Regions from separate parts of the Homo sapiens genome. Here all the other regions are linked to region 2. Evidence: fine-mapped expression QTL. A gene starts in region 2. Each other region holds a variant in brackets. All regions are shown on one strand. Distances are from middle to middle. Region 1 overlaps ZMYM6 (zinc finger MYM-type containing 6). Region 2 holds the start of ZMYM1 (zinc finger MYM-type containing 1). Region 3 has its middle 33 kb from the start of SFPQ. Region 4 holds the start of LOC105378644 (a long non-coding RNA gene).

What was found. PIP is the estimated chance that this variant, and not a neighbour inherited with it, causes the effect.
Region 1: its variant is the best candidate, but not a certain one, in a credible set for the expression of ZMYM1 in whole blood (INTERVAL, PIP 0.76).
Region 3: its variant is the best candidate, but not a certain one, in a credible set for the expression of ZMYM1 in esophagus muscle (GTEx, PIP 0.76).
Region 4: its variant is the best candidate, but not a certain one, in a credible set for the expression of ZMYM1 in subcutaneous fat (GTEx, PIP 0.55).

What each region holds. Positions count from the first base shown.
Region 1 is chr1:35,012,330-35,014,945 of GRCh38, forward strand. ZMYM6 (zinc finger MYM-type containing 6) reads right to left here. Exons shown (of 16, transcript NM_007167.4): 6 at 2,368-2,559; 7 at 102-252. Among named protein-coding and RNA genes, the nearest start is that of ZMYM6, 18 kb to the right of the region's middle. The variant T/G (reference allele first, on the strand shown) is at 1,361.
Region 2 is chr1:35,077,934-35,080,549 of GRCh38, forward strand. It overlaps ZMYM1 (zinc finger MYM-type containing 1), which reads left to right and starts at 1,452. Exons shown (of 10, transcript NM_024772.5): 1 at 1,452-1,509. RefSeq lists an enhancer at 1,359-1,877.
Region 3 is chr1:35,158,740-35,161,355 of GRCh38, forward strand. No RefSeq gene overlaps it. Among named protein-coding and RNA genes, the nearest start is that of SFPQ, 33 kb to the right of the region's middle. The variant C/T (reference allele first, on the strand shown) is at 1,124.
Region 4 is chr1:35,144,893-35,147,508 of GRCh38, forward strand. LOC105378644 (a long non-coding RNA gene) reads right to left here and starts at 1,933. Exons shown (of 3, transcript XR_947180.3): 1 at 1,407-1,933; 2 at 1-204. The variant A/G (reference allele first, on the strand shown) is at 1,177.

The DNA.
Region 1 (2,616 bases), 66 kb before region 2:
ACTAAATAGATAAATTTAGCTTGTAACAAAATCAGAGAAAAGCAGTTACGTTTTTCTTCAATAGTTATTAAATCTATAAATTTATCAAATTTAAACATTACCTGAAGAAGTAACAGTCTTAACTCTGTAAGCAGATAAGCAATTAATAGAGCAGAAAAGCTCTGTTTTTCCTGAATCATTTGTAGTCTCAATCATTTCAGCTGAGGGCCTCAATGACTTCCCCAGGGCATATGGAGGAATTTGGGCAGAATTCTATTAAAATAAAATAACATTAGATACCTAGTACAAACATACATATTTACATATTGTTCAAAAAAGTAAAAAGAAAAGCTACCTACAACCACGGTCCTTGGTTGAAATATTTGAGCATGATGATGAAACCACACTATTGGGAGGTGGGAAAATAAGTTCTTCCAGACAACAATAAAATAGAAACTGAAGAAAATTAGTAACTATTCAGATAGAGATCTTAGCAAACAAAACACATGAATTCAAACACAAGTAATGAATTAAATAGTCATTACATACTTTTTAATCACCAATAACCAGAGAAGACCAGCTAACCCATGAACCAAAGGGTCATTCTTGGTATAGTCTTGTACATCAATCTAGAAGAGTCTACCACCTTTAAGGTTACTTAATTTGTGAGATTCTTTAGCAGGAGATAGAAATGATATTTAATGTATATTAATAGAGATCCTACACAACTACCTATTTTTCAAGCTGAGTTTCATAATAAAATCTGCTTATAAGTTTATTCATGTTTTAAGAAATAATAAAAATAGCTACCATTTACATAACCAATATTATAACTTACTGAATGCTTACCATGAGTCAGGCCCCAGGCTAAGAAATTTATATATAGTGTATCACAGAAACCTTTCAACAACAGAGTGAGGCGCTCTCAAAAATTACATTAACAAAAAGTTTAAATTAACAGATGAGCAGAAGAAGTAGGAAATTAAACTCATTTCATCAGGCTCCAAAGTTCAGGCTCCTAACCACTACACTATGCTGTCAGTGATACATTATAAGGTCTCTCAATATGAAAAGAAATTGTAGGAAAATATAAATTGTGAGGTTTCACTACATAATCTTCCTAGTAAAAAGACAGAGTACAATACTAGTAACAAAATTAGAAATGGAACTGATTTTGGGATCATATATAAAATAACATGGATTCTTTTCCTGTGAAAGTAGAACCAGACTGCCAAAAATGGCAAATCTTAAAAAAAGAGATTCTTTTCAGTGATGAATGTCCATATGTCCATTACCAACTGCTCAAAGGAAGCAACAAATCAAACTTGCTAACTGAAAAAAAGTTTAATTATCATTTACAAGATACATCTTTGTTTTTTTT[T/G]TTTGTTTGTTTGTTTGTTTTTGAGACAGTCTTGCTCTGTCACCCAGGCTGGACTGCAGTGGCACAATCTCAGCTCACTGCAACCTCCACCTCCCGGGTTCAAGCAATTCTCCTGCCTCAGCCTCCTGAGTAGCTGGGATTACAGGCGCCCGCCACCACGCCCAGCTAATTTTTGTATTTTCAGTACAGACAGGGTTTCACCATGTTGGTCAGGCTGGTCTCGAACCCCTGACCTCGTGATCCACCCGCCTTGACCTCCCAAAGTGCTGGGATTACAGGCGTGAGCCACCGCGCCGGCCTTACAAGATACTTCTTTAAGAAAAACTTTTTAAAACCACAAATTAGTAATAATTAAATTGACACAAGGTGATAATATTTAGTAACCGGCTTAATCCATTATTCATTACAATAAATAAAATTACTTGAAGTATTCTCATGAGACAGTGTTGACCAAATAATTACAATTCATTCCCAAACACATTTTGAAATGAAAAAGACAAGCTTTGTTTAGATTCACTGATTTTATCATCTTAACTCTTGCTTATGGTTTATTTATAATATGGTTTTCTTGCTATCAATACATCACAAAATATTTCATGCTCACAGAAAATCATGAAATTACATTTATGAGGCCGAGGTGTGGTTGCTCATGCCTGTAATCCCGGCACTTTGGGAGGCTGAGGCGAGTGGATGGCTTGAGCTCAGGAGTTCAACACCGGCCTGAGCAACATGGCAAAACCCTATCTCGATTTCAAAAAAAGAAAAGAAATCACATTTGTAAATTCTTAGCTATGAAGGGAGCCTTAAAAAAGGGACCTATTTTACCTATATCAACTTACCACCACAATCATCCCTCACACCATCAGAATCTATCCCATTTTCTGGAAGGGAAATCACATATCAGGATGGACTAATGGGAGGAGCTCACTCTCATTTTGTAGTTCATCCCTGTGCAGCCAAATCAGAAGGAGTGGGCCTAAGTACATGCAACAAATAGATATTCATACCTGCTTGTATGCCGTGACACTTGTTGAACTAAAAACCTTCTGGGATTGGCAAGGACCAGAGCTACTATAGCAATAGCTCCCACAGTTCTCACAACAGTTCATGGTGAGGTTGTTTGTAGAGTGAAATTTTGAAAAACAGGCATCACTACAAAGACCATGTACCACATTTTGATATTTAACTTCAAATCGAGTCTAGGAAATAAACACACACATACACACACAAAATAAGCAGAGCCAGTTAAAAAAAAA
Region 2 (2,616 bases):
CAATGACATCACTTGCCTTTGGATGCCCACTGAACCAGGACTCATTTCTGGGTTCCAATCTAATCCCAGTCACTGAGTTGCTGTGTAACTTGGGGCAAATTACCTTTATCCTCTTGCCTTCAGCTTTTCCTTTGGTAGGAAGGGAGCATTAGAGGAGAGATCATTTCAGTAAGGTCCTTTCTAATCCTAACAGTCTAAACAGATTATTATGAATATTAGAAGGTAATAATAAATGTTGGAGAAATTAACTTCAGTTACTCGTATAATATTTCAAATTACCAAAGGGTTTATATTAGATTTGAGGCTAATTCCAAAGGATATTTAAGGACCATAGCAGCAAGGATTAGGAGGCCCTTTTGGTCTGGACCTCACCTTCACAAGGGCCTCAAATTTAGATTTTTGAGAATATCTCCTTTAAAAGTAATTGTCAAATATGATTATAATAAGTTCATCATTCAACCTTATATATATATTTTAGAATCCTCTTATGCCTTTAGGAATAGCACAGTTAGTTCGTCCTATACTTTTTTAGGTGTTGAAAGTATTGTCAAAAAACATTTAAAATATGCCATTATTTTTGACATGCAGTTTGGGGTTATTTTAATTTTTTTTTTTTTTTTTTTTTTTTTTTTTGAGACGCAGTCTCTCTCTGTCGCTCAGGCTGAAGTGCAGTGGTACAATCTCAGCTCACTGCAACCTCTGCCTCCTGGCTTCAAGCGATTCTCCTGCCTCAGACTCCCAAGTAGCTGGGATTACAGGCGCCCGCCTCCATGCCCGGCTAATTTCTGTATTTTTAATAGAGACGGGGTTTCACCATGTTGGTCAGGATGGTCTTGAATTCCTGAACTCAAGCAGTCCACCCGCCTCGGCCTCCCAAAGTGCTGGAATTATAGGTGTGACCCACCACACCCAGCCTGGGGTCATTTTAATTTTAACGTACTAATGAAAGAAGTCTGAACTCCCTCCCTACCTCTGAGGATAATTTCCTTTTACTAGGAATTTACTCTGCAACTGGCACTTTGCTAACATTGCCTGTCATATTTTTTTTTTTTGAGTCCAGCTTCTGCAGAAGCCTGCCTAATGTTTACAAACCTACGATGCAGCCACTACAATTATCCCCATTTCAAGGTCGAAGAAATGGAGATTTATAGAAGTTGTCAAATCGCTTACTAGCACACAGCTAATAAGTAGTAAAGCCATCTCTCAAATCCAGGAAATCTAACTGCCCTGCCTGAGCTCTGAGTCAAGGGTCCTACTTTGGCTGCCAGCCAGCGACGACTTCAAGGGTAAGATCCTATGCGGGCCGTAAGGACTCTTCCCCTCCCCCTCTCCCACTTCTTCTATCCCAAAGTCGCTCTTCCCAATTCAGGGAGCTGGGACCACCCTGAGCCAGCGGCCCTGCGCATGCTCAACCGCAGAGCACGACGGGAGAGGGGCGGGGTCGGCGGGGCCGTTTCGCTTCGAAGATTGTTTCAGAAGCGTTGGGCGGGGCGTCCCTGAGAGAAATTAGTAAGCCTCCTCATGCGGCTCTGGTTTCGGTCTTTACTCCTGCGCCTTACTCGAAAGGGGCAGGGTTTCTGCTGTCGGTCGGAGGGAGGATGACGCGCCGGGTCGGGGTTTTAGAGACGGAGCTTTGAGTGCGGATTCCGCCAGATGGGGGTCGGGAACTCCGGGCCAGGCCCTGACGTGGATTGTGTTTGCCGCCTCCTTTAACCTTGCCCTCATAGACTGGGGGGGTTAGTGCTCCCCGCTTCCAGCGATTCTCGCCGCCTCCTGCTCCTGTGTAGTAACTGGGCCTTCAGACTTTAGTCTCGCTCCGCAGCCTCCGTTTCAGAAGCCCCATCACACCTGTATCTCTCCTTCATTGAGCAGTGATTTTTCAAAAGTTTGACTCCTGGCCGGGCGTGGTGCCTCAAGCCTGTAATCCCGACACTTTGGGAGGCCCAGGCGGGCGGATCTCTTGAGGTCAGAAGTTCGAGACCAGCCTGGCCAACATGGCAAAACCCCGTCTCTACTAAAAGTACAAAAATTAGCTGGGCTTGGTGGCAGGCGCCTGTAATCTCAGCTACTCAGGAGGCTGAGGCAGGAGAATCGCTTGAACCGGGAGGCAGAGGTTGCATTTAGTCGAGATCGTGCCACTGCACTCCAGAGCGAGACCCCGTCTCAAAAAAAAAAATGAAATGTTTGCTGAACCCCAAAAGCACAGTTTGAACGCTGCTGATTTACAAGATTAATTTTAAGGTATTTGGTATCAGGGACCTTCCTGACATGACCCATGTCTACTTTTCAAACTTTCCAGTTCCTTCTACTAGCACTCTTGCACTTGTACTTTATCTGCAACAACAGTCCCACTCCTTCTAGTTCCCATATATTTGTGCTTCTTTTTTTTTTTTTTTTTTTGGAGACTGGGTCTCGCTCTTTGGCCCAGGCTGAGTGCAGTGACACGATCACGGCTCACAAGCAGCCTCAGCCTTCCGAGCTTAAGCGATCCTCCCACCTCAGGTTCCAGAGTAGCTGGAACAACAGGTGCTCCCCACTACGCCCAGCTAATTTTTGTATTTTTTGTAGAGACAGGTTATCTTCATGTTGCCTAGGCTGGTCTCGAACTCCTGAATC
Region 3 (2,616 bases), 81 kb after region 2:
CAAAAACTAGGTATTTCTTTAGGAGACTGAGGCGGGTGGGTCACTTGAGGCCAAGAGTGCGAGACTAGCCTGGGCAACGTGGTGAAATGCTGTCCCTACTAAAGAAACAAAAATTAGCCGGGTGTGGTGGTGGGCTCCTGTAATCCCAGCTACTCGGGAGGCTGAGACAGGAGAATCGTTTGAACCCGGGAGGCAGAGATTGCAGCGAGCTGAGATTGCACCACTGCACTCCAGCCTGGGTGACAGAGGGAGACTCCATCTCAAAAAAAAAAAAAAAAAAACAAGGAAAAGAAAAAGAAAAGAAATAAAGAAACAAACTACTGATAGGCATGGTGGTTCACACCTATAATCCTAGAACTTTGGGAGGCTGAGGCAGGAAGATTGCTTGAGCTCAGGAGTTCCAGACCAGCCTGGGCAACATAGGAAGACCTCATCTCTGCTAAAAAAAAAAAAAAAAATTTTTTTTTTTTTTGAGACACACTCGTTGCCCAGGCTGGAGTGCAGTGATGTGATTTCAGCTCACTGCAACCTCTGCCTCCTGGGTTCAAGCAATTCGCCTGCTTCAGCCTCCCAAGTAGCTGGGACTACAGGCACGCACCACCATTCCTGGCTAATTTTTTTTTTTTTTTTGTATTTTTAGTAGAGACAGAGTTTCACTATGTTGGCCAGGATGGTCTCGAACTCCTGGCCTTGTGATTGGCCCTGCCTTGGCCTCCCACAGGCTGGGATTACAGGGGTGAACCACCACACCTGGCCTGCAAAATTTTTTTTTAAATTTGCCAGATATGGTAGTGAGCACCTGCGGTCCCAGCTACTTGGGAGGCTGAGGTGGGAGGATCACCTGAGCCTGGGAGGTCGAGGCTGCAGTGAGCTGTGATCATGCCACTGCACTCCAGCCTGGGTAATAGAGTGAGACTGTCTCAGAAAAGAACCCAACAAACTATTGATACACCTAACAATGTGTATGACTCTCAAAATAATGCTGAGTGAAAGAAGCCAAATAAAAAAAAGAGGCCGGGTGCAGCGGCTCATGCTTGTAATCCCAGCACTTTGGGAGGCCAAGGTGGGTGGATCATGAGGTCAGGAGTTCAAGATCAGCCTGGCCAAGATGGTGAAATCCCAT[C/T]TCTATTAAAAATACAAAAATTAGCTGGGCGTGGTGGCTGGTGTCTGTAATCCCAGCTACTCTGGAGGCTGAGGCAGAGAATTGCTTGAACCCGGGAGGCAGAGGTTGCAGTGAGCTGAGATCGCGCCATTGCATTCCAGCCTGGGCAACAGAGGGAGACTCCATCACACACACACACACACATACACACACACAAAACACATGTCAAAGATTCTATTCATATAAAATTCTGGAAAATGGAAACTAACCTATAGTGGTAAGTAAGCAGATCAGTGGTTGCCTGTAGATTGGTAGAGGCAAAGGAGGGATGTATAGGTACAGGAGTCAAGGATTACTAAGGGACACAAGGAAACTTTTGGGGGTGGCAGCCATTTTATCTTGATTGTAATGTGAAAGTTGTTAGAATTGAGATTTAACACTAGGAGTCACTAGTGTTTAAAAAAAAAAATAGAGCCAGGGAAGGCTTGTATGTCTCATAACAGAAGCTATCACAAAAGACCCTTGAAAAAACACAACCTTGCAAAAAAGCCATCACAAACTTACACAAAAAATTCATCTGCAAAGACATCTACCAAGCAACTGCCTGTCCAACCTCAGCCAGGCAACACCCTTGTTAAGGATTTTTATAGCCAAGGATATCATTTCAAAACAATGATGTAATCCTCTTCATTTTTTCCTTTGAAAACCTTTCTCCTCTGTCTTTTTCCTTTTTCTTTTTTTTTTTTTTTTTTTTGAGACAGAGTCTTGCTCTGTCACCCAGGCTGGAGTGCAGTGGTGTGATCTCAGCTCACTGCAACCTCTGCCTCCTGGGTTTGATTCTCCCGCCTCAGTCTCCCCGGTAGCTGGGATTACAGACATGCACCACCATCCCCGGCTAATTTTTGTATTTTTAGTAGAGACAGGTTTTCGCCATGTTGACCAGGCTCGTCTCGAACTCCTGGCCTCATGTAATCCACCCACTTCAGTCTCCCAAAGTGCTGGGATTGCAGGCATGAACCACCGCATCCAGCCAAAACCTTTGTCTTTCTTTACCTATTCAATACATATACATAGTTTACTGTGGCACACATATTCCCATTGCAATGCGTAACTCCTGAATAAATCTCTTTTTCTTTTAGAGAGCCTCTTTCTCTTTATTATTTAGATTGACAGTGGTAATGATCTTATTGGTGTATACATATGTCAAACTTTATCAAGTTTGTACTTCAAATATGTGCAGTTTATTGTATATCAATTACTTCATTTAAGCTGTTTTTTAAAATGTTCATTACGTTTTCCTGTGTAAAATGGAAATTCGTGTGACTATTTATAACTTTTTCCAACTTGTTCTGTCTCTGTTAAAACAAATCTGTTGTATTCAGCTTCCAGCTCAGACAGAAAACTGGTACCAGATTTCCCTTAGTGCTGTAAACAACTAGAAAACTGCATGAAGTATACAAAACAACTGCTGTTCATACATGGTATATGTGTTTGCTAGAGCTGCCATAACAAAA
Region 4 (2,616 bases), 67 kb after region 2:
AAAGCAATCAGCTCAGCTTAACGACAGTGTCCAGGGTTACCACCGCATATTCTGCACATCTCTCTCCTTGTGGGTTGATGAAGCTGTTCCCGTCCACGTATAGCTCCCAGTTTACTGATGCCCAAGGCTGGTCCTGGAGGTCAGGTCTGCTAGAGTAAACTTGAGTCCAACACCTCTACACAGTTATGCTCGACAGGGCTCTAGCTGCCAGGAGCAAGGTGGAGGGTTCAGGGTATTTCCAGTTTAGTAGATCAATGGTTGAAAAGGGCTGATAGATGAAAGTCTGTTGCCCCCCCAGATGTGGGCCTGGTCATTATAATAGACAGGTCCTCGCGTCTCCCTGAGAGGCATTTGCATAGCTCGAGCAAGACCAGATCTGAGAGGGCCCACTTGACTATCTTGACTTCCTTCCTCGGCCTCTCGAGGCTCCGATCCTCCCCTTTGAGGTGAGACCTGGGGCATGTTAGCTCCTGAATCTCATTTCTGAGGGGGCTGTTGGCCTCGGTAAAGGGGGATAGGCTGGGACATATGGAGAAAGAATTTCTATTATCTCTGGCAGCTCCTGCAAAACTGGCTTCTGTTGCTGTTTCTGGGACTCCCTTTTTAACTCCATGTCTGCTGGCGAAGCTGCTCTTACTTTTACTTTTGGCTTTTTTTGCAATAAGCTGTTAAACAGGGCTAAATTTATGCCCATTTTGTCTATATTATATTTAACCATGAGTCAATATAAAGTAATTTGATCTAGGTACACTGGCTGTCCTCCAACCCCTGTCACCACCTTAAATACATGGCCAATTGTTCCCTGTCTATAGTTCCTTCGGTGGGCCATCCAACACCAAAAGAGGGCAATTCTAATTTACACAGAGTTCTTAGCCTCTAGGGGTTAACTTAACTCTATAATCTCCTGCAAAACCCTTCTTAAGGTTCTGTAACCTGCATTTTAATGGAATAAGTTTTGATGATTTGATGACTTTCCTTTTATTTTTCTTTTTGAAAATTTTTTTTAACACAGTTCTTAGTGGAGTAGGCTTACTTTGTGTCTGACCTATTTTTCTCTTGAGACAAAACAACATTCACACTACAAGAAGGAAAGGATAAAAGGTCACTCACTCATCTAATTCACACTAAATCAAAATGAAAACTAAAACCAAAGTGTTGTTAAAGGCACACCTGTTC[A/G]TCAAGCAATTTAAGCCAAGTCAAAATCAGAACCAAAACCAAAGTGCCAATAAAGGCATGTCTGTTTATCAAGCAATTCAAGTCAAGTCAAAATCAAAACTAAAACCAAAGTATCAAGCAATTCAAGTCAAGTCAAAAACAAAAACCAATGTGCCGGTACAGGCACGCCATGGGTGATCAGGCCACACTTCCACTCAAGAGGAGTGGCAAGTTCCAAAGACCAGTCTTACCAAGTTTCAGATGTCCAGACTTAAAGTGCCAGTTCCTTCCCGGTGTTCAGCCACTGCGTTGATCCTCCGCGGGGGCCTGCTGTGCGCTGCTCTGGTGAGGTGTTCAACCGGGGCAAATGCCTACCCGGGAGCGCTCTTAGGATCCGTGTTGCTCAAGCTGGCCAGAGTCCCCTGCAGGGATGCTCTACAGGGCAGACATAAGCTAACTAAGGGGCTGCCTGGACCATCCCTTAATCACCTCGCTTCCCGGTCAGGGAACCAAGAAATGTAACAGGACGAGCCACAGACAAAACTCCTCAGACACTGGATTAAAGAAGGAAGAGGTTTTTATTTGGCCGGGAGCATCAGCAGACTCGCGTCTTAAGAGCTGAGCTCCCCGAAAAAGAAATTCTTGGCCTTTTTAAAGGCTTACAACTTTAAGGGGTCCACGTGAAAGGGTCGTGATACATCAAGCAAGCGTGGAGGCTACATGCATCAGCTAACAGAACAAAAAGTTTTACAATGCTTTTTTTCATACAGTGTCTGGAATTTACAGATCACACAAGTAGTTTAGGTCAGGGGTTGATGTTATTATTACTTTTTTTAACTCCTAGGGTCGGGTGGTGGTTCCAAGGTTGTCTGGCTATTTATCTTACTTTTGTTTTTTTCCAACTTTTTGCTTTTTCTCTCTTCCTGTCTTGTGAACTAGGCAAGGTGGGGAGAGGAGGGCAGCAGGAGTAGTAGTGGTCTCCTTCCTTACAATTTTTGCTAAAGAGCAGGTTGGTGCTTTAAGATAAACCTGTTATGCTTTTACTTTAATGTCCAGTTCACAGAAAAACTGGATGATACTTCTTTAACTTTAGCTAATATGTTTACACACAGAATTTTCTTTACAATTAACATTTTAAAACATGTTTAAACCTTCAAAACAGTAATTTTCTTTTTTTAATGTAGGTAAAAATGTACATTCTTATGCTTCCTTATAATCCTTTTACCAAAGGTATATTTTACTTTTCTTATACACCTTGCACATAAACTGTTTTTTTTTTTAATAGTTTTACATTCAGGAGGCCTAGTTACTTTTAAATTATACAACATTTTTTGCATAAATTCTTTTTTATAACATTTTTCTCTTTCATGACTTTCACAGACAATTCTTCGACATGCCTCAACTTTCTGACTTATTACAAATATTTCTTTCTTTAAACAACCAGTTAACTTATTTCAGGAC